3 linked regions of the Homo sapiens genome follow. The protein of the gene in region 3 purifies or fractionates together with the protein of the main gene of each other region. This does not show direct contact. Each region holds a gene or a part of one and is shown on either strand. Other genes may lie near its edges.

Evidence for each region. Proteins that work in one complex are often made in the same cells at the same time.
Region 1: the proteins of HNRNPH1 (region 3) and HNRNPA1 purify together in Homo sapiens (affinity purification with mass spectrometry; 7 studies listed by BioGRID and IntAct, with this or other methods). This does not show direct contact.
Region 2: the proteins of HNRNPH1 (region 3) and HNRNPA2B1 purify together in Homo sapiens (affinity purification with mass spectrometry; 5 studies listed by BioGRID and IntAct, with this or other methods). This does not show direct contact.

Annotation. Positions count from the first base shown.
Region 1 is NC_000012.12:54,283,726-54,287,587, reverse strand, and holds the end of HNRNPA1 (heterogeneous nuclear ribonucleoprotein A1), read right to left. Parts: intron 3,777-3,862; coding exon 3,621-3,776; intron 3,331-3,620; coding exon 3,275-3,330; 3' UTR 3,271-3,274; intron 3,040-3,270; 3' UTR 501-3,039; downstream 1-500. UniProt on the Homo sapiens protein: Involved in the packaging of pre-mRNA into hnRNP particles, transport of poly(A) mRNA from the nucleus to the cytoplasm and modulation of splice site selection.
Region 2 is NC_000007.14:26,197,747-26,205,370, forward strand, and holds the start of HNRNPA2B1 (heterogeneous nuclear ribonucleoproteins A2/B1), read right to left. Parts: upstream 3,001-7,624; 5' UTR 2,832-3,000; coding exon 2,826-2,831; intron 121-2,825; coding exon of another isoform or gene 85-120; intron 1-84. Other genes in the region: CBX3 (chromobox protein homolog 3), read left to right, coding at 5,253-5,276. UniProt on the Homo sapiens protein: Heterogeneous nuclear ribonucleoprotein (hnRNP) that associates with nascent pre-mRNAs, packaging them into hnRNP particles.
Region 3 is NC_000005.10:179,612,972-179,621,244, reverse strand, and holds the end of HNRNPH1 (heterogeneous nuclear ribonucleoprotein H), read left to right. Parts: coding exon 1-3; intron 4-209; coding exon 210-353; intron 354-1,837; coding exon 1,838-1,976; intron 1,977-2,921; coding exon 2,922-3,100; intron 3,101-3,184; coding exon 3,185-3,256; intron 3,257-3,312; coding exon 3,313-3,446; intron 3,447-3,595; coding exon 3,596-3,731; intron 3,732-4,134; coding exon 4,135-4,194; coding exon of another isoform or gene 4,195-4,224; intron 4,225-4,286; coding exon 4,287-4,376; coding exon of another isoform or gene 4,377-4,385; intron 4,386-5,026; coding exon 5,027-5,119; intron 5,120-5,649; coding exon 5,650-5,699; intron 5,700-6,285; coding exon of another isoform or gene 6,286-6,404; 3' UTR 6,405-7,067; downstream 7,068-8,273. UniProt on the Homo sapiens protein: This protein is a component of the heterogeneous nuclear ribonucleoprotein (hnRNP) complexes which provide the substrate for the processing events that pre-mRNAs undergo before becoming functional, translatable mRNAs in the cytoplasm.

The DNA of each region.
Region 1 (3,862 bases), on a different chromosome or scaffold from region 3:
ATTTGCTAGAGGGTACAATTATTGCTTCCAAAATAGTCCTTACATTTTTAGGCTATCTTTGAGAGGCTAAGTCTTGCCTCTCATTCAGTTCACTTTCTTACTCCTGGCTTGAGAATTCTACTGAAGTATGAGACAGCTGGCCAATAAGCCCAACTTGTTTGCCAAAGATGAAATCCATTATGTCCTTCTGCAACAGATGGTGAGCGTAAGTCCCAATAGAGACATACTGAGCTCAATGGCAGTGCTACAACTTGATTTTCCCTTGCCAGGGGAGCTAGAAAAAGGACATGCTCAATTGGATCAATAGTAAAGTTTACTTATAGTGAGCCAAGAATTACTCCTGTAGTGAGAACCCATTTCTATTTTCATTAAACCATGAAGCTGAATGGGATGAATCTAAATATAGAAATTCACATTAGAATCAACCATATCCTCTCTAACCTGAATTTCAACATGTTATTAACCATAGATATCACAAAGGAGGACAAAACAAGCAGAACTAAGTTAAATACAGTTTATTAAAAAAAAAAACCCATTCACAAAATGGAATTTGAGCTGCAGAACAGCTCATGTAAACTGCATGGCAGTGATAACGAAGTACAGTGGCTCAGATAAAGGTCTTCACAAGGACGTTCCTGCAAAAGGCAAAAGAGGTTGTAAAGTATTCATATAAGCAGAGGTGAATGACTACACAGTTATATCCACTGTCACTACTGGGAATACCTGGTTGGCTAATAACTCTTTTTGCAATTGGATGAGATTACGAAGTGTTTTGGTTTAAGGTACAGCTTGTCATTCTTTTACTTTGGGAACGCAGGGCATTCTTTTGCTGAGCACTAATTTGTAAAAACTTACCTTTCTGCCACGAACTTGGACAGATGAGTTTCTGTTTTTAAGAGCTGATAAGACTAGTAGCAGACTCCTCCCTAGAAAAGTAAACAACCTTTAGAACTAGCTCTAAGACCAAGTCCCATCTCAAGCTAAACCCCCCATACCTCCCATTAATAACCCACCCATCCCCCCACCATTTGGGGAAGTCTATTACTTTGAGCCATTATTTTAAGGAAATGGGTCAAAGGAAGATAAATAAAAGGGCAAAAATTTATATTCACAGTACAAATAATGTGCTCACTTCCTTCAACTGGGAGCCATCAATAGGGTGTCAATTTAAAACAATTCATCTCCAGAAAAACCAAGTTCAGCTTAACTGGACTAGTTTTGGCTCAATATATTAAGAAAAATGTTTAACAGAAAACTGGACTTTAAGTAACTATATGGATGTAAGTAAAATCTGTTCTTACCTACCCGCATAGCAATAAAACCTTTCCTCCTGGTTCTGACTGCTAGTCCTAAGAGTCAGGTGTGCCTTACTCTTGTCTGCCTCCTTCCTTGCGATGATCACTGATATTTCACTCCCTCCTAGCTTTCATGGAGCGTGCCGTGGCCTGCCCCTGGCTTATCTGTACTCCACATACCACAAGTGTCTACTCTCAGCTGTAGAGTGTCTGAGCTCGGAGCCATTCGCGCTATACTTGCTAGCAGTTCCTAGTAGCTGAACATCTCTCCTGGATCTTTAAAGGCATTGTCACGAATCCTGAGGTATCTGCAAACTCCCTCAATAGTTAGGGTTCCACCTGCTATTGCAAACTCAGCCAGTATCATGGAACTATCACCCATGCTTTCCCACCCACCACCACCTCCCACCCACCTCCCACCACCCTCCTCCTCCCCAAACTTCCAACACACCCATGGGATGGAATATACAGTCCTATTGATAGACAAATCTCTATGCTACTAGGTACAATAGCACTGAAATTGAGAGAGCACCAAAGGTAAGGCTCAAAAGAATCTATGTACAAATAACACATTATTGGATATTAACTGTTAAAGGTTTAGAAATCATTTTCTATACAATTAACATTTTAGGTAGGTTGTGTGACCCCTTGTGCCATAAAGGGAAACTGCAGTTAACATGAAATTATGTAGAAAAATTTAGTTTCTATTGGTATGGTTTGAATCTCCAAATTAATTAGTATAGTTAACTGATAGAACCTCTGAAGGCCCACCCAACCAGAACCCAGTCAAACTGCAGTTTTCCTTTAATGTAAGCCTATCTTTACGTTCATTAAAATGCTTTCTGATATTAGTTATTTTTAAAAGGCCTCCCAGACACTTCAAATCTGCGGATTTATGGAGCGGCATTAGCCAGCAGCTAGTTTCTATTCCCTGGCAGAGCTTTGAACTTGAATTGTGATAGAAGCATTCAACATTATTATCAGGGGGAGTGGGTAGGGAAAGTCCAAATCTCTGCCAGTCCCAAATCCATACAGTTGTCATTTCATTCAAGAGAATTAAATCGTTTATTGATTACACATGATAATGGATACACAAGCTTCATTCCCATCTATAATTTTATCTGGTACCATTATTCAATTTAGATATATTGCATAGGATGTGCCAACAATCACTTTTATAACCATTCCATGATTTTGCTTGGGTAATCCCTTTTAATGGTGAACTTCAGGTCACAACAGTAACTATCAGTTCAACTACACCAAGGTTTCCGAAGACAATGGCTTCTCCACCCAAGCAGGTTGTATATAAATTCCAAATAGAACCTGGCATCACCCTGAAGGAATTCTAACTTCACACTGTTGGGGAAATTTACCAAGATGGCTTAAGAGTAGACTAACTTTACACAGCACATTAAAAAAAAGACATTTATTCAGCGTCACGATCAGACTGTTACATTTAGCAATCAACAGCATGGGGTGCAAAAAAAAAAATCTACATTAAAACCCTTTGTTGGAATGCTTTACACTTTCCACAGAACAGAAACTAAAATAACCTGTTATACAATTAGTCACAAATACAGTCCTCGAGTTTTTTGCCCATACACATGAGTATTTGTCTAAAACATGTCTTCTTTGTAGCAGCTAGGCCCTGCCACCACTGTGCTTGGCTGAGTTCACAAATCTGTTGTAACCTGTAGCTTCCCTGTCACTTCTCTGGCTCTCCTCTCCTGCTAAGCTTTGTTTCCTGTTGAACAATATGGAATAAAGTTGTTAATCTAAACATATTAAGACTCAAGGCTACAATCCAATATCAAGTTTGTTTCCCACAAATTTTGCTGATCTGAATATTAACTTTATATCCACAATTACTGCAATTATAATGTTAACTATGTTGCACTGCTCAGCTACATTAGGGTTATTGGGTTCATCAGCAATTTAAAAAATTATGTCAACACACAAAAAGGTGCTTACTTACCTAATTAAAATCTTCTGCCACTGCCATAGCTACTGCTGCTGCTGGAACCGCCATAGCCACCTGAAAAGTACAATTTTTCTTTTAAAGTTTCAAAGTGCCAACAGTAATGTTTTCATATTTGGGATAATAAAAGTTAAATTCAAGTGTCTGGCCATTTAAAAATGGCCCTACTACAAGGGAGGTGGTAAAGAGGTCCCATGATTTTTCTAATTTGTGATCAAATTATCACTTTCTGAAGGTTCTAAACTATAAACGTTTTGCTGCCCAGACATAGCAGTTAAAGGGCTTTCTTCCCAGCAGTAGCTACAGACACTCTTTTGACATTATCCAAAATTACATAGATACCATACCTTGGTTTCGTGGTTTTGCAAAGTATTGGCCTCCACCGCCATAGGGGCCAGAGCTTCTGCCTCCAAAATTTCCTCCCTTCATGGGTCCAAAATTTGAAGACTGATTGTTGTAATTCCCAAAATCATTGTAGCTTCCACCACCTCCAAAATTGCTTCCTATGAATGGGAAAGAGGGCCTTTATCTGTTACCTGAGGATGATGTTAGTTTCCAATTCTGTTTAGCAGTCAGAATAAAATAAGGT
Region 2 (7,624 bases), on a different chromosome or scaffold from region 3:
ACCATTTCAATTTTTATTTACATTTTCCTCTTTGTATGCAGGAAATTAAATTCTTAAATATGAGGTGACCTGCTGGCAGAGTACCTTTTTCCTCTCCAAAGGAACAGTTTCTAAAGTTTTCTGGGGGGAAAAAAAAAACTTACATCAAATTTAAACCATATGTTAAACTGCATATTAGTTGTGTTACACCAAAAAATTGCCTCAGCTGATCTACACAAGTTTCAAAGTCATTAATGCTTGATATAAATTTACTCAACATTAAATTATCTTAAATTATTAATTAAAAAAAAAACTTTCTAAGGAAAAATAAACAAATGTAGACCGTGATTATCAAAGGATTATTAAAGAATCTTTACCAAAAATTTCAACCCTACAACCTAAAAACGCAAATTTCTATTTTTAAACATCAGAAAATAACTCTTGGTTCATTACTTATGACCCAAAGTTTTTATTTCACTATTCAATATCTGAAAAGTATCATTTATTTTCCCTTAACTGCCCCCTCTGGTGGTGATTCTAAGTATCTCAGCCAAAAAAACACAACTTTTTACAACAAACACTAAGTTTCTCCATATGACTCTCAGTTACGAAAATATTTAAAGATATGCATTAGAAATAACCTTAAAAATTACTCTTATAACCAGGACAAATTAATTTTTATGACCAGCAGCACTCGAAGCTTAAAAAGTTTAATTTTTGGTGGACATGTCTATATTTGATATATGACAATACAGAATATGAATTACTCAGCTTAACCATATGTACAATAAAATACATTCACGTGGCATAATCTCTAAGATAACAATTACTGAAAGCTGAAGCTTACTTGATTGGCCATGTGGCAAGCGACAGGCACAAAACAATTTTCCAAGTCAATAGGAAAAACCTCAGAGCTGAAATCTTTATATGCTGTACTACACAGCTGTATTCTGGGCACTTATGAATGTTAAGGAAACCTGTCTTAAAAGTTAACTAGGTTAAAAAACCTCAAACGAGAGAAAGTGATATCCAGGACCAACTGCTACAAACGCATAATGCAAACTAAAAAGTCACACGTAATTTTCAATCAATTATTTTTTGTTCCTAGCAAGCAGCATTAATTGCTGCTCTCATCCCAGTTCTACGGAGCTCTCCCTCCATTCGCATGCTCCCAACTCCTAAAAAGTAGTGGTAAAACCCAGTTCAGATTTTTTTCCTGTAGTTTTCATGACTCGTAAAAATTAAAGAAAAAATTAACTGAAATGATCAAACTAGCTCCTATGAGACACAAAGCAGTCTTTTGAAATGGTTACTTGTCACGATAGTTATTTTCATTTTTTCAGCTAGTTTTTATTCTTAATTGTCGTCAGCACATAGGTTATCTCTAAACTGAAATTACGGATAATGTACATTTATAACAAGTTTTACAAATCACTAACAAAAAGCAAAAACTCATTACTTACCTCACAATTTATCCAAACTTACCCGATGTCCACTATCGATTTTAAACAATGTTATTTTATAAACGTGCTTAGGGTCAAAGAAAATAACCAGGTAGACCCCCTTCGCTTGAGACCTTATGCTTATCAATGTAATGTTCAACCAAGATTGCAAACAAAATGAGAAAAGTAACAAAGTTCAAATACAGAGCGGCCCAGGCCCAAAACAGTTTTGCACATCAATCCATACGCATTACAGGAAGGAGCCTCTGAAGCCATGTTTTAATCGAAGTATAACTAAGGACAAAATCGTTATTTCACTTTCCTCGTAATCATCTATAAAGGTCCATGGATCTGTCCCGTAAGGGTTAAACTTCTCAGTAACAACATTACTTAAAATGAGTCAGCTCTACAACTTAAACGGAATCCTTAAGAACAGTAAAGGATTCTGACGCGAATATCCCTCCCCCGCCCAGAAAACCACCTTCGTCCCTGCCCCTCGTGGCCGATGGCTTCCAATTTATGTTTATTTTGCCGCGGTTCATCTGTCGTTTTACTGACTGCAGACCCAGATAAAACCGTTACTCAAAGGAAAAAAAAGACAGGAAAAACATAAAATGGTTTCTTTGTCCTACGGCTCGCATTGAACCCGGCCCGACGCCCTGGGTGGTGATATCTTCTCTGAAACCGGGCCCGCAAACCCGGAGCACCCCCCCTCCCCGCTCTTCGGTGTGGCTTCCGAACGCAATGGCGCCATTTCATCGAGGGGAAGGCTGAGCGCCTTTAATGAGGTGCGCAGGACTCTAAAGATCCAAGCTCACAAAACACTCCAAATCCACCTCGAAACGATATGAAAACAGCCCGAGAAGAAAAAAAAATAGTTAACCACTTCTACTTCTTGATAGAGAAAGCACACTAAGAAAATAAAAGAGTTATAAGGAAAACGCTGAGAGGAAGGCGAGCCATGAAAATGGCGGCCGCCAAATCCGGTTCCCGGGAGAGAGGGGGAGGGGAAGCTCCGCAGCCTCGCTCACGAGGACCTGCTGCCCGCCGAAACGCTCGCCGAGGAGACGCCGTGGCCCCCGAAGCAGCGTGCTTTAGAAAGGGAATAAGAATTCCCGCCTCCGCGCCCCACTTTCACCCCAGCGGGGCAGCGTCCGCCATGTGAAAGCTCCCCATCCCCCACCCCCAGTGAAGGGAAATGGCGCCGGGAGGCTGAGGGTGGGGAAGCTGTTTGTACGCTCAGGCCTCCGCTCAAGACCCCGTTCATAAACCTTAAGCCCCACTGCTACTGAATTGGTCCGATTTCCTGCCTCTCTCCCACGGAGGCGGCTGGCCGACTTCCACTGAGGCGCCAACGGCCTCGCCATGCCCTTTTCAATAACTCATTGATTTCAAACCCGTTACCTCCATCGCGGACTCAGTCGCTTCAGCCCGATTTCCCGCAGCCGAGCGAGATGAGAGAGATCTCCGCGGACGAACACGAACCGGACTCGTCCTGGCGCTGTAGTGAGAACTGCCGCTGCTCGAGAAACAACTCTGCGAGGAGCACCTCCGCACGGGACCCGGCGCTGCTGCTACTGCCGCTAGAGCCGCTGCCGCCGCTTTTCTAGAACCTTCCCCCCCACTAACGCGTCTTCCGCTACGTCAGGCCGTCGCGTAAACGCCCTATCCGCCGCCAATGGCGGGAAGGCTCTACGCCCCACCTTACGCCAAATGCGTACTCCTCCCACCCTTGCGGCCAGAGACAGTACCCGACGTTACTTCCGTAAATGCGCTCAATGAATTGCGGAAGGCTAGAGTCCTGCTAGTTACTACCTCTTGGAATAGGGTCCCGCCCCCTGCCTTGGCGCAAGGCAGGTGAGAAACGGTCGCGCAGTTTGAAATTAACGCCGACGGGAGGGGCTTAATCCGCAGCCTGGAGATCCAGCCCCCTCAACCCGGGAGGTGGTCCCTGCAGTTACGCCAATGATAACCCCCGCCAGAAAAATCTTAGTAGCCTTCCCTTTTTGTTTTCCGTGCCCCAACTCGGCGGATTGACTCGGCCCCTTCCGGAAACACCCGAATCAACTTCTAGTCAAATTATTGTTCACGCCGCAATGACCCACCCCTGGCCCGCGTCTGTGGAACTGACCCCTGGTGTACAGGAGAGTTCGCTGCTGAAAGTGGTCCCAAAGGGGTACTAGTTTTTAAGCTCCCAACTCCCCCTCCCCCAGCGTCTGGAGGATTCCACACCCTCGCACCGCAGGGGCGAGGAAGTGGGCGGAGTCCGGTTTTGGCGCCAGCCGCTGAGGCTGCCAAGCAGAAAAGCCACCGCTGAGGAGACTCCGGTCACTGTCCTCGCCCCGCCTCCCCCTTCCCTCCCCTTGGGGACCACCGGGCGCCACGCCGCGAACGGTAAGTGCCGCGGTCGTCGGCGCCTCCGCCCTCCCCCTAGGGCCCCAATTCCCAGCGGGCGCGGCGCGCGGCCCCTCCCCCCGCCGGGCGCGCGCCCGCTGCCCCGCCCTTCGTGGCCGCCCGGCGTGGGCGGTGCCACCCCTCCCCCCGGCGGCCCCGCGCGCAGCTCCCGGCTCCCTCCCCCTTCGGATGTGGCTTGAGCTGTAGGCGCGGAGGGCCGGAGACGCTGCAGACCCGCGACCCGGAGCAGCTCGGAGGCGGTGAAGTCGGTGGCTTTCCTTCTCTCTAGCTCTCGCTCGCTGGTGGTGCTTCAGATGCCACACGCGTCCCGGGGGCCCGGTTCTCCGCTCCCCTCCCCTCCCCTTCTCGCCGGACCCCGCGCCGGGAGCTGCGGGAAGGAGTGGAGGGTCGGGCGGTGGCCTCGCGGCTGGCCTGGCGCGCGGCCAGCGCCGGTAGTTAGTGGGGGGACTGCTCTGCCCTCGAGGGGGTAGGGAGCTGTGGCGACGGTTGCCCCATTTCGAGACAAAGCGCATTTCCCCCTCCCCTCCCCCACCCGCGTTCCGGCGGAGGCGCCCCCTCCCCCAGCCGCCACGCGGGGCTGGGTCGAGACTTGGGCCTCCCGGAGGGCGGCGCGTGGTCCCGCGTCCGCGAGGCCTGGCGGCGCGCGGCCGGCTGTCCCGAGGCTGCGGCGACCGCCCAGTTAACGTGGCCGCCGCGGGGGTAGGCGCGTGCGGTGTGGCGCAGTGCCCTTGAGCCCCCGTGCCGCGGCCTTTGTTTCTCCCCGCGGATGCGCTGACCACGAGGCCCGCGCTCCCGGGTGGGGGCGGGCACCCGCGCTTAGGCCTCTGGACGCCGGGCTTCAGCGGCGGGGGTCGGGAGCGGGTGTTTGCAAGAGGTGATTCTTTTTTCAAAGTGTCACGAAACGGGGTTGAAGCATCTTAAGTTTTTTCCTTTTGTTATTTAATTACCGATTGGAAAGAGGGAGGGTTTCTGAGCAGAAACCAAGTTGGGATTGCAGAACAGAGAAGATTCACAGTGCTTTACCGTTGTGAGTTGTTTGGGTAATCGTGCCTGGTTTTAAACCGAAAGGATTGTCCTTTAAAAATGGAACATGGACTTTATTATAAATGGGACTTAGATTGGAAAAGACATTGGTCCCCTATTTTAAGCCATGTGAAGCTGTTTTAGGTACCAGGATCCCCAGTAAAGTCTTTCTAGACTCACATGGTTAGGACACGTACTTAAGTACATCATAAGCAATGTAGGTAGGAGCGCAGATCTACTCTGGATTTGTATTCACGTTTGAAATGTGCGCTCTCTACTTGGGGGTTGGAATCCAAACAGAATTTGTATTTAGTTACCTTTTTTGTGTCATGCAAACTTACCTTAACTGTCATGCATTTTTCTAGTAATAGCTCTTCAAGTCTGCAATAAAAAATGGCCTCCAACAAAACTACATTGGTAAGTTAATGAAAACCTAAAATATGTAAGGATTTAACTCAAGTTTTTTTTCCCCACAGTATAACTTTGCATCTCTGTGGCTGAGAAATTTACATCCACATATTTCCCAGCTCTCCCAGTGTAAATTACAGGGGAAAATTAAGAGAAAAACGAATTCATTACAGGGAGATACTGGCTTGGCTTAATAGTGTCTTAACTAGTTCAAAGAAGGCTAATCTTTGAAGGACAGTGCAATGTGGATTTTGCTGAGGATTTTTATCTTCAAATAGAAATACACACATTTTTGCAGCGTTGAAAAATGTTACATAAAATGGTAAAGCCCTTGTTGGTTGGCATAATTTTTCTTAAATCCCCAGAATTCTGGAGAAGTATTTTCATTAAAGCCCAATTTAAAGAACAAGGTACCTTGTGCACCTAGGTTGGAGCAAAAGTCATTGAATCTTTCAAATTACTTTGGTCACTTTATCTTGTTTTAACTTACTCTAAAACATAGAAGAATATTAAGTTTAATTCATTGCAGTGTTTTGTTTTTTAAACAAAATGATCGAAATCGCAAATATGAGCCAGAAGGGAGAAAAGGCTAGATTTTTTTTTTATCTTATTCAGCCATGTCATGTTACAAGTTTTTTTAAACCCTGGAATATTCACATAAAAATCATGAAATTCAAAGTTACAGTTTTCACAATATTTAACATTGCATTAATCTTAAACACGTAAAGGTGAATGTTAATGTCTCCTAGGTAAAATAAAGCATTTGTTTTTGGCTTGTATGTGCTCTCTCTGGGTTTCACACTAAAAAGGGCACGTTAGTGATTTTTAATTTGTGCCATCATTAGATTCTGCATTAAGTCTGTTTACCCTGCATTAGATTCTGCATTAGATTCTGTTTACCCTGGAAAACAGAAGTTGTTTTTGCACGCAATTGATAGCCTTTGGGGTCTGTTATTGTATTTAGTTTATTTTGTGAAGGATCACAGGTTGGCCACTTTAAAAGTTCTTAACTTTCCATTTTAAAAATTCATTAGTGTTGTGAGATATGTGTGCTGTTAATTTCACTTAAATAATGGGAAATTTATTTTGACTCATCCACTTTTGGAAAAAAGTGCTGGGTTAAGGCAAATATATACTATAAAAGAAAATAGTGAGCATTTGAAACTAGCTTATGAATGCCATAGTAGTGAATGAATACTGTATGGCATTTTGTCTGCCTTTTTTTTTTTGTAAACCTTAGTGTGTATCCTTTTCATTTTCTGTATTTATTGTTGACTTTATTTTGTTAGCCTTCTCCCTTTGTGGCAGTAGCTGTTTTGTTTTTCATGTAGTATAGGTATCTGATACACTTCTGTCTATTACAGTTTGTCTTTGCTCCTCCCACCATTATTCCTACCTTCTTGTACTGTACAGTGGCAGAAAGCTGTTTGGGCCCAGTACTCAAGTATCTTGACTAATGAGAATCATAACACCTGACTTAGAAATGGTATCCAAAAACGTCAGGTGTTTGCTGCATGTTTTTGTATTTCAGGGGATTTTTATTTTGTGTGTGTGTATGTGTTACCTATATGCTTGCATAGCTTGAAATGCCCTTTTGCAGTCTTGAGGCCTTTCTTACATATCTGTCTGCACACTTCATATGCCTGCATAGCTTGAAATGTCCTTCTGTAGCCTTGAGGTGTTCTTAACTTTTTTCTGCTTGCTGCTTTACTTGTGGGATGGCTTTAATGATTGAGCAATTAAGGTTTATCTTTTTTAAATAGTATTTGGGTTTTTTGTTTTTGTGTTTTTTTGAGACAGAGTTTTTCTCTTGTTGTCCAGGCTAGAGTGCAATGGCGTGATCTTGGCTCACCGCAACTTAAGCCTCCTGGGTTCAAGCAGTTCTCCTGCCTCAGCCTCCCAAGTAGCTGGGATTACAGGCATGCACCACTATGCCTGGCTAATTTTGTATTTTTAGTAGAAACGGGGTTTCTCCATGTTGGTCAGGCTGGTCTCAAACTCCTGACCTCAGATGATCTGCCCACCTCGGCCTCCCAAAGTGCTGGGATTACAGGCATGAGCCACTGCCCCCGGCAATAGCATTTGCTTTAAGATGAAATGTTAAGATGGATTCCTTCTCAGCCCATAGGATCTTCTGATTAACCATTTCAGGGTTTTTTTTCCCCCATTTTTAATCCTCTCATAAAAATTTTCCCCATTTTTAGTCCTCTCATAGGAAATCTTGAGCCATTGGAAAGAGCTGGTTCACGTTGGTTTCCTGCTTCTCTTAAATAGTGTCATACCAAAGAAAATGCCTGTTTAAAGTGAATTTGGTTACCAGTATAGACTTTCTCTTGAGAAACCAGGAAGGAAGGATT
Region 3 (8,273 bases):
AAGGTTTGATTTACATTGCCCTAGTTACAGTAAATAAAGCATTAAACAATAGAGGTCTCACCCCTTCTGAATTTTAGGTATTTGACTGCATGGAAATGGTCATCTAAGGGAGTTTGTGGCAGCTCTTCCTAGCTTATCTAAAGACCCAGGAAGTCTGAACTTTGTTATCTAATTTTCCAAAAGTGACTAATTCTAAGCACCTCTTTCAGTATTCAAGTCAAACAACGTTGAAATGGATTGGGTGTTGAAGCATACTGGTCCAAATAGTCCTGACACGGCCAATGATGGCTTTGTACGGCTTAGAGGACTTCCCTTTGGATGTAGCAAGGAAGAAATTGTTCAGTTCTTCTCAGGTATGTAGTCATGTTTGTTGCTGAGCAGTGAGTTTTGGCTAGCTTATGGCAAGGTGATTTAATAGACGTTAAAGTTGAGTAGCTTAGGTATTTCAGTAGGTTGTAAATTGCCAATGAATTAATGTTTTCTTCCTAGAGACCTTCAAATAATTTAAGCCCATCTTAAAGGTGGAAATGAAGTACTTCCAAAATGTTAACTTTGCCTATATTTAGTATTATAGTTCAGAGTAGATCTTTCATTGAGGATTGCCCTCAACAGCTTAACTACTTTCCTCACATTGGTGTCCAGCTAAGTACCTCAAGTTAAAGGTAAGATCCCTTTACCAGCAGATCATCAGTGCGATGAATTAGGTTGTTGTAAATTATGGCAAGTGTCTGTGTTGCAAGAGACACGTATTTGGGTCATGTGACCAGAAGCATCTAATGGTCTAATTCTCTTTAATGCAAAAGTCGGTTTATGAAAGACTTGGTTTAACCTGTGTGGTATAAACTTACTGAAAATCAGATGTAGTGAGAGTAGTTTGAATGCTTGTAGTCTCAGTATCTGAAATAAGTGTTTTGAAATTGTTCCTGGGCCTAAAGTATTTGAATGTTTTTATGCTGAAGAGCTGATAAGATTGCATGTTTAACAATGTTAGATAAGATATCGTATATTTTAAGTATTAATATTTATGATGTGATACGCTGGAAGCAGGAAATCCTTTCATGGTTTAGTGTAGTATGTTAAAAATTGATATATGTATCGAGTCCTAATGTCAGAATTTTTAAAATCAAGTCTGTTTTGTTTTGACACTAAATTGGTGAGAATTGAATGCTGTCAACGTTAAATATGAACATAATTTCATATCTTCTAGGAAAGTGCTTTAAGTCCTTTTTGTAAGCTTGGGAATGTATCCACGGAAAGGATTTTTCATAGACGGAATTTCCAGAAGTGAATCATAACTACTGTTAGAGCATAAGCATGCATGATTGTGCTGTGTAGATCAGTTTTGTTGAAAGTTTAGATTGTTGTGTTTGTCAATTATAATTTAATGTTTCAGTTTTTATATGAAATGTTGTAAATGTATACCTTTTTAAAAACTTGAAGTTCCAATAACTTAAAGCATTGAAATATAAAATGAGGTAAAAGGTGTTTTGAATTTAGTAAAACTGTTATTTAATGCTTAAAACTTAATTGAATTGTATAATTCTCAACATTAAGTTGCATAGATATGTGTTCTTAAGTTGTTGAATTCTTAATGCATCCTGTGTTCAGCAAGTTTTTTTTAATATATACTGTACCATGGGTGTGTTAAGAATAGTTATACTTTATAATAATGGAACTTCATATTATTGCAATGCATATTTAAAGAGTACTTGTTGAAAGCATACCATTCACCTAAAGTTAAAAATTCTGGTTTATTTAAAGCTATAAGAAGAATCATTTCTGGGCTTGTGATGTTAATATTGCCCCCCTACTGGGGTTATTTGTCCTTGGGTTGAAGGGTTGGAAATCGTGCCAAATGGGATAACATTGCCGGTGGACTTCCAGGGGAGGAGTACGGGGGAGGCCTTCGTGCAGTTTGCTTCACAGGAAATAGCTGAAAAGGCTCTAAAGAAACACAAGGAAAGAATAGGGCACAGGTGGGGATGGATGGTTGGTTGGATATGTCACTTTTCTTATGGTAAACAATTAAATCCATATTCTCTCTGCTTAAAAGAAGAAATTAATGTTTTGTAGTCCTAGGTAATTGATGTTTTGCCATGATTTCCAAACTTGTGTCAGTCCCACGTTACACGCAAACTAAATTTTAGGTTTGAAATTTGTCCCTAGTTAATTGGTCTGCTTGACAATTTTGTGAGTCTTATTAACCCCAATCAATAGAGTTGAGAGACTATGGCTTTAAAAAATTAATGCAAACCTGGCTTTAGCTGTAATAACACCCACCTAGAATAAATTAATATTACCATAAGAAAATGTGATACTTTCTGATCTTGTTTTTAAAGTTGAAATGCAACAAACTTTTTCTTGCTGTATATAAATATTCTGCATAGTATTAATAAGCATAGCTTTCAAGAAATTGTCACAAAAGGTTTTATTCTCTTTGCTTGTGACTATTTTTCATTGAAGCATGCGCTTACCTATGCTGATTCTTACTAAAAGCATAGGCTGGGGTATTTATTGGCGAAAGGAAATGTGTAGTGTGGGCTGGACTGTTGGTGGAGGCTGGCTTTTTAGCCCACTTGCTATACATGCTGCCAATGGATTTAAGACTTGAAATGTTGAAAGTTGAGTGGAATTATTTCCCTCCTAAAACATTTATTTACAGTACTCCTCTCTACCCCTAAGGTTGGGCTCTGCCTCAGAGGAGTGAGTTTTTTTTTTTTTTCTATAAAGTTTACATTGTCTTACTATTTATTGAGTGAATTTCTGGTCATTGCCTATGCAAATATAAGAAATCTGGCTTTAAATATTAGTCAGTTTCATGGCTATGACTAGATTGTTTTCTTGTATAACTAAATACCTGTATAAAATGAACTAATGTTTTCTCTCCCCTCCCTACCCCTTCCTTATGAACAATGCTTTAGGTATATTGAAATCTTTAAGAGCAGTAGAGCTGAAGTTAGAACTCATTATGATCCACCACGAAAGCTTATGGCCATGCAGCGGCCAGGTCCTTATGACAGACCTGGGGCTGGTAGAGGGTATAACAGCATTGGCAGAGGAGCTGGCTTTGAGAGGATGAGGCGTGGTGCTTATGGTGGAGGTACGTGAGGATTCGTAAGGTTCGGCAAGTCGTCTGTTCCTTTGTCTAGGTGTTTTATTTGATTGATTGTACTTTGTCTTTCAGGCTATGGAGGCTATGATGATTACAATGGCTATAATGATGGCTATGGATTTGGGTCAGATAGATTTGGAAGAGGTAAGGTAAGAATTGAATTTCTCAGTTGAAGGATGCTTACACTCTTGTCCATCTAGACCTCAATTACTGTTTTTCAGGAATGTCTGATCACAGATACGGGGATGGTGGCTCTACTTTCCAGAGCACAACAGGACACTGTGTACACATGCGGGGATTACCTTACAGAGCTACTGAGAATGACATTTATAATGTAAGTGTGAGATGAACTCACAAGTCAATATTTCAGTATGGCAGTAAGTCAGCCTTATTCTATAAATGTGAGCACTATGTTAGAAATTTTAGGTTTTTTTTGTAACGTTAGAAAGTTGGTTGAATTCTTTGAAATGCCTTGTGTTGTAGTTTTTTTCACCGCTCAACCCTGTGAGAGTACACATTGAAATTGGTCCTGATGGCAGAGTAACTGGTGAAGCAGATGTCGAGTTCGCAACTCATGAAGATGCTGTGGCAGCTATGTCAAAAGACAAAGCAAATATGCGTAAGTGTGATTGAGCATTTGTGGGCTCTTAACAGGTGATTGTGTGACTAACATTTACAATAGAGAAATGGAAAAATAAGGATATATGAGAAGTTTCCTCTCCAGTAATAGATTAATTCTTGGGGGATGCGGGGGCAGTGTGTTGAAGGTTTGGGTTTTAAAAATTAGTATAACGGATTTGTGATATGCACATCTTGAAGTGTATATCCTTAATTGACAATACAGATGAATATGTAAAGGCTAGATTTTGGAGTTAAAGTAGATCACCTAAGAGAAGTAGCTAGAATTTCTTTGCCAAAGTATTTGAAGTTCACAGATCTGCTTGTTTAAAAACTTTATAAAAGTGCTTATTCTGTTTTGTTTCACCAACAAACATTTTCAAACTTTTTTTTTCTCATTTCAGAACACAGATATGTAGAACTCTTCTTGAATTCTACAGCAGGAGCAAGCGGTGGTGCTTACGGTAGCCAAATGCTAGGAGGCATGGGTTTGTGTAAATATCACTTTAGTGTCTTTTTTTTAAGCTAACCTTGTATGCCTTTTCTCTCATTTCAGAACACAGATATGTAGAACTCTTCTTGAATTCTACAGCAGGAGCAAGCGGTGGTGCTTATGGTAGCCAAATGATGGGAGGCATGGGCTTGTGTAAATATCGTTAGTTTTTTTAAAAACCAAAACGTTTATATCTGTATAAGTCAATTATAAGTTAAGTTAATCTATTTATTTAATAAGTTTAGCATAAGAAACTTAGGCAAAGCAGTTTCTTGATATTTGAGTTTTGTATCTGGCTTACTTAAATCCTTGTGAGTTATGAAGTTCCTTAGGATAGATAATTCAAATTAGGTTTAAGTAGTCTTGGGGGAGGGGACTACGGAGTGAAACTACTTAAATTTTCTAAGTATAAAGTTTAAATCAATAGCAAAACAGGATTAAGATAAATGTGGGCATAATTAGGTGTATTGACATGCCTTTGATGTATCAAACTGAGGGGGAACCCACTAAATCCAGTCAAGCAGTTTCATAAGATCTTCACAAAATGCCTCTACTTACGGAATCATGTTGATTTTAGTCCTGCTGATGTGTGTACCGTTAGCACTTTGGTTTATCAATATTTGACTGGCTCAAATGATGGATAGAAGGGTGGCCTGGTTATAGACAGTAGGCAGAAGGAGGCAGAGGGTTACAGTAATGTAAGATCAAGACTGGAAAATGATAGCTATAGAATTACAAGCCCGGTACCACCAGGTACCACATCACATAAGAAAAAAGGTTCTAATGTTTTCTTAACTTAACAGCAAACCAGTCCAGCTACGGGGGCCCAGCCAGCCAGCAGCTGAGTGGGGGTTACGGAGGCGGCTACGGTGGCCAGAGCAGCATGAGTGGATACGGTAAAGCCTGTTTGTTACTGTACTTAGAGTAAGTTATGGTAAAGCCTGTTCATTACTGTACTTAGAGTAAGTTATGGTAAAGCCTGTTACTGTACTTAGAGTAAGTCGCAGGCAGGTGCCTTTAGTTGGGAAGATGCAGGCTCCTTTCGGTGAAATTGGGTTATGAAATGTATGCTTTCAATCCAAATGTAACTGTTTTTACTAGCTAATTTTCAGAAACAATCATTGGGAGGGGGAAGTGTTCTTTGAATTAAGAACTAGTCATTGCAGCTTTGGAATACTGTCGAGCCAGAAAATATCTGCCTCCATGTATTAAAACATTAAATAAAGTTGTTCACTTTTTTGTCTTTTGGTTAGCATTAAGTCAGTTTTAGACAGAGGGAGAATTTGAAATAGTAGAATGGTGGTTGGGTTCAGGATCGTATTTATTAGTCAGTTAACCTAGGATTGGTTTTATTTATTTTTTTTCAATTGGTCTAAAGAATGGTGATTTTGGTATTATAGTCTTACCCTACAAAATCCTTTTGCAGACCAAGTTTTACAGGAAAACTCCAGTGATTTTCAATCAAACATTGCATAGGTAAATATTTTCTCAAAAAATATAAATTCCCAATAGCAAATACTGATATGTTGTAATAATGCTTTCTATAGCAGTCAATGGCTCTGACTTAACTCCATGGAGGCTGCCATTTGGGCACAGTGAGTTGCCTTTAGTCCAGCTTGGTTGTCTCACTTCCTGCCCACCATGAATAGGAAAAGCAAGAGACTTCCCCTGTGCTCCCTTTTCTCAAATGCCATTCGAGGGACACATTGTGAATGTTTATGTTAAATTTTTTTTAAAAATGCCTTGTTTAGCTTTAAAAATACGAAGTAATTTTGCAATTTTTGAAAAACACTAGTTTTCCTTTAAACTTAATTTTTCATGTTGATCCTGAAGAATCCGTTAAAATGGTAGCACAAGAGTCTGGCAAGTTGGTACTGCAGAGAAAAGGGGTTAATTGAGGCTTGTTTGGAGTCGGGATTCCCCTTTCCCAAACATGCGTCTCGCCACTTGGACAGCAGCCATTTGTACTCGTATACTTTTTAAACTTTTTCTTGGAATACTATATTTTATTTGACTGGTAGTCTGATATTACTCCTAACTTGTCAAATTGATCTCTTTGCAGGTAACCAAGGAGCAGTGAACAGCAGCTACTACAGTAGTGGAAGCCGTGCATCTATGGGCGTGAACGGAATGGGAGGGTTGTCTAGCATGTCCAGTATGAGTGGTGGATGGGGAATGTAATTGATCGATCCTGATCACTGACTCTTGGTCAACCTTTTTTTTTTTTTTTTTTTTTTCTTTAAGAAAACTTCAGTTTAACAGTTTCTGCAATACAAGCTTGTGATTTATGCTTACTCTAAGTGGAAATCAGGATTGTTATGAAGACTTAAGGCCCAGTATTTTTGAATACAATACTCATCTAGGATGTAACAGTGAAGCTGAGTAAACTATAACTGTTAAACTTAAGTTCCAGCTTTTCTCAAGTTAGTTATAGGATGTACTTAAGCAGTAAGCGTATTTAGGTAAAAGCAGTTGAATTATGTTAAATGTTGCCCTTTGCCACGTTAAATTGAACACTGTTTTGGATGCATGTTGAAAGACATGCTTTTATTTTTTTGTAAAACAATATAGGAGCTGTGTCTACTATTAAAAGTGAAACATTTTGGCATGTTTGTTAATTCTAGTTTCATTTAATAACCTGTAAGGCACGTAAGTTTAAGCTTTTTTTTTTTTTAAGTTAATGGGAAAAATTTGAGACGCAATACCAATACTTAGGATTTTGGTCTTGGTGTTTGTATGAAATTCTGAGGCCTTGATTTAAATCTTTCATTGTATTGTGATTTCCTTTTAGGTATATTGCGCTAAGTGAAACTTGTCAAATAAATCCTCCTTTTAAAAACTGCACTCTGTCTTGTCTGTGCTTCAGTGTCATGTGGACTGAGTCTTGGTGCTCTGTGCCCACCTGGGGCCTAGGGCCACATCTCTGGCTTGGCAGTTGAGGCTGTTGCGTAGATGTCTTCAGTCTTCCCTCCAGTGCAACTGAAGGTAAACTCGTCTTTGGGGCCCTGGTGGAAGGGCTGTATGTCATTTGGCTGCACAGGACCTGATCTGAACTGCCTGTAACTCATTAAGCACTTGCACAAAACAAAGGGGGAGGCGCCAGTGCCCTCACTGCATGCCTGCATGTCTTTGAGGCCTTCATGCTTGGCTGGGAAGGTGCCGGAGGCAAGGGAGGTGTGATGAATATGTGGGTTTCTTCTAGCTCATAAGCTCATAGGTTTGTTTTTTTTTTTGAGGCAGAGTTATATTCTGTTGTCTCAGGCTGGATTGCAGTGGCGTGATCTCAGCTCACCTGCAACCTCCACCTTGTGGGCTTCTGCCTCAGCCTCCCAAGTAGTTGGGGTTACAGGCGCCCACCACCACTCCAGGCTAATTTTTTTTGTATGTTTAGTAGACACGGGGTTTCACGATGTTGGCCAGGCTGGTCTCCAACTCCTGACCTCATGAGATCTGCCCACCTCGGCCTCTGAAAGTGCTGGGATTATAGGCTGGAGCCATTGCCCAGCCTTCACAGATGGTTTTCAAATGGAAGTTTTGAACTTCTGTATTTTTGGGTCATTCCTAAAAATCAATTCCACTTGGAAGCAAAATTCCATGTAAGTCTCCTAAGGTAGAACGATAGGTAGAGATTGAGAGCTAACATGAGAAGTTTAAATGAACTCTTAAATATATCACGTTTTGGTAGTTCGAAGCTCCAACATGATGATAGCAAGTATTCAAGCTGCTTCCAAGTGGTGTACCTGAGCGAGTTAGAAACGCCACACTTGGAGACGAGTTCAGGAGTCCTTTATTAGCCGGCGACCGAGAGACGGCTACCGCATGAAAGTATCTCGGCCTCGAAGAAGGAGCTAGATTTTCTTTTATACTTTGGTTTGGAGAGGGGAGGGGGATTCTAGCTGCAGCCATCTTAGGGAAGAAAAACAGACAAAAAAGTTAAAGACAAATGGTTACAGGAAAACAGTTCCAGGTGCAGGAGCTTCAAATTCATCACAAAGTGACAGGTGAGGGGGCTCTGGGTGTTATCTACCGGACAAACATGGGGGCTTGATG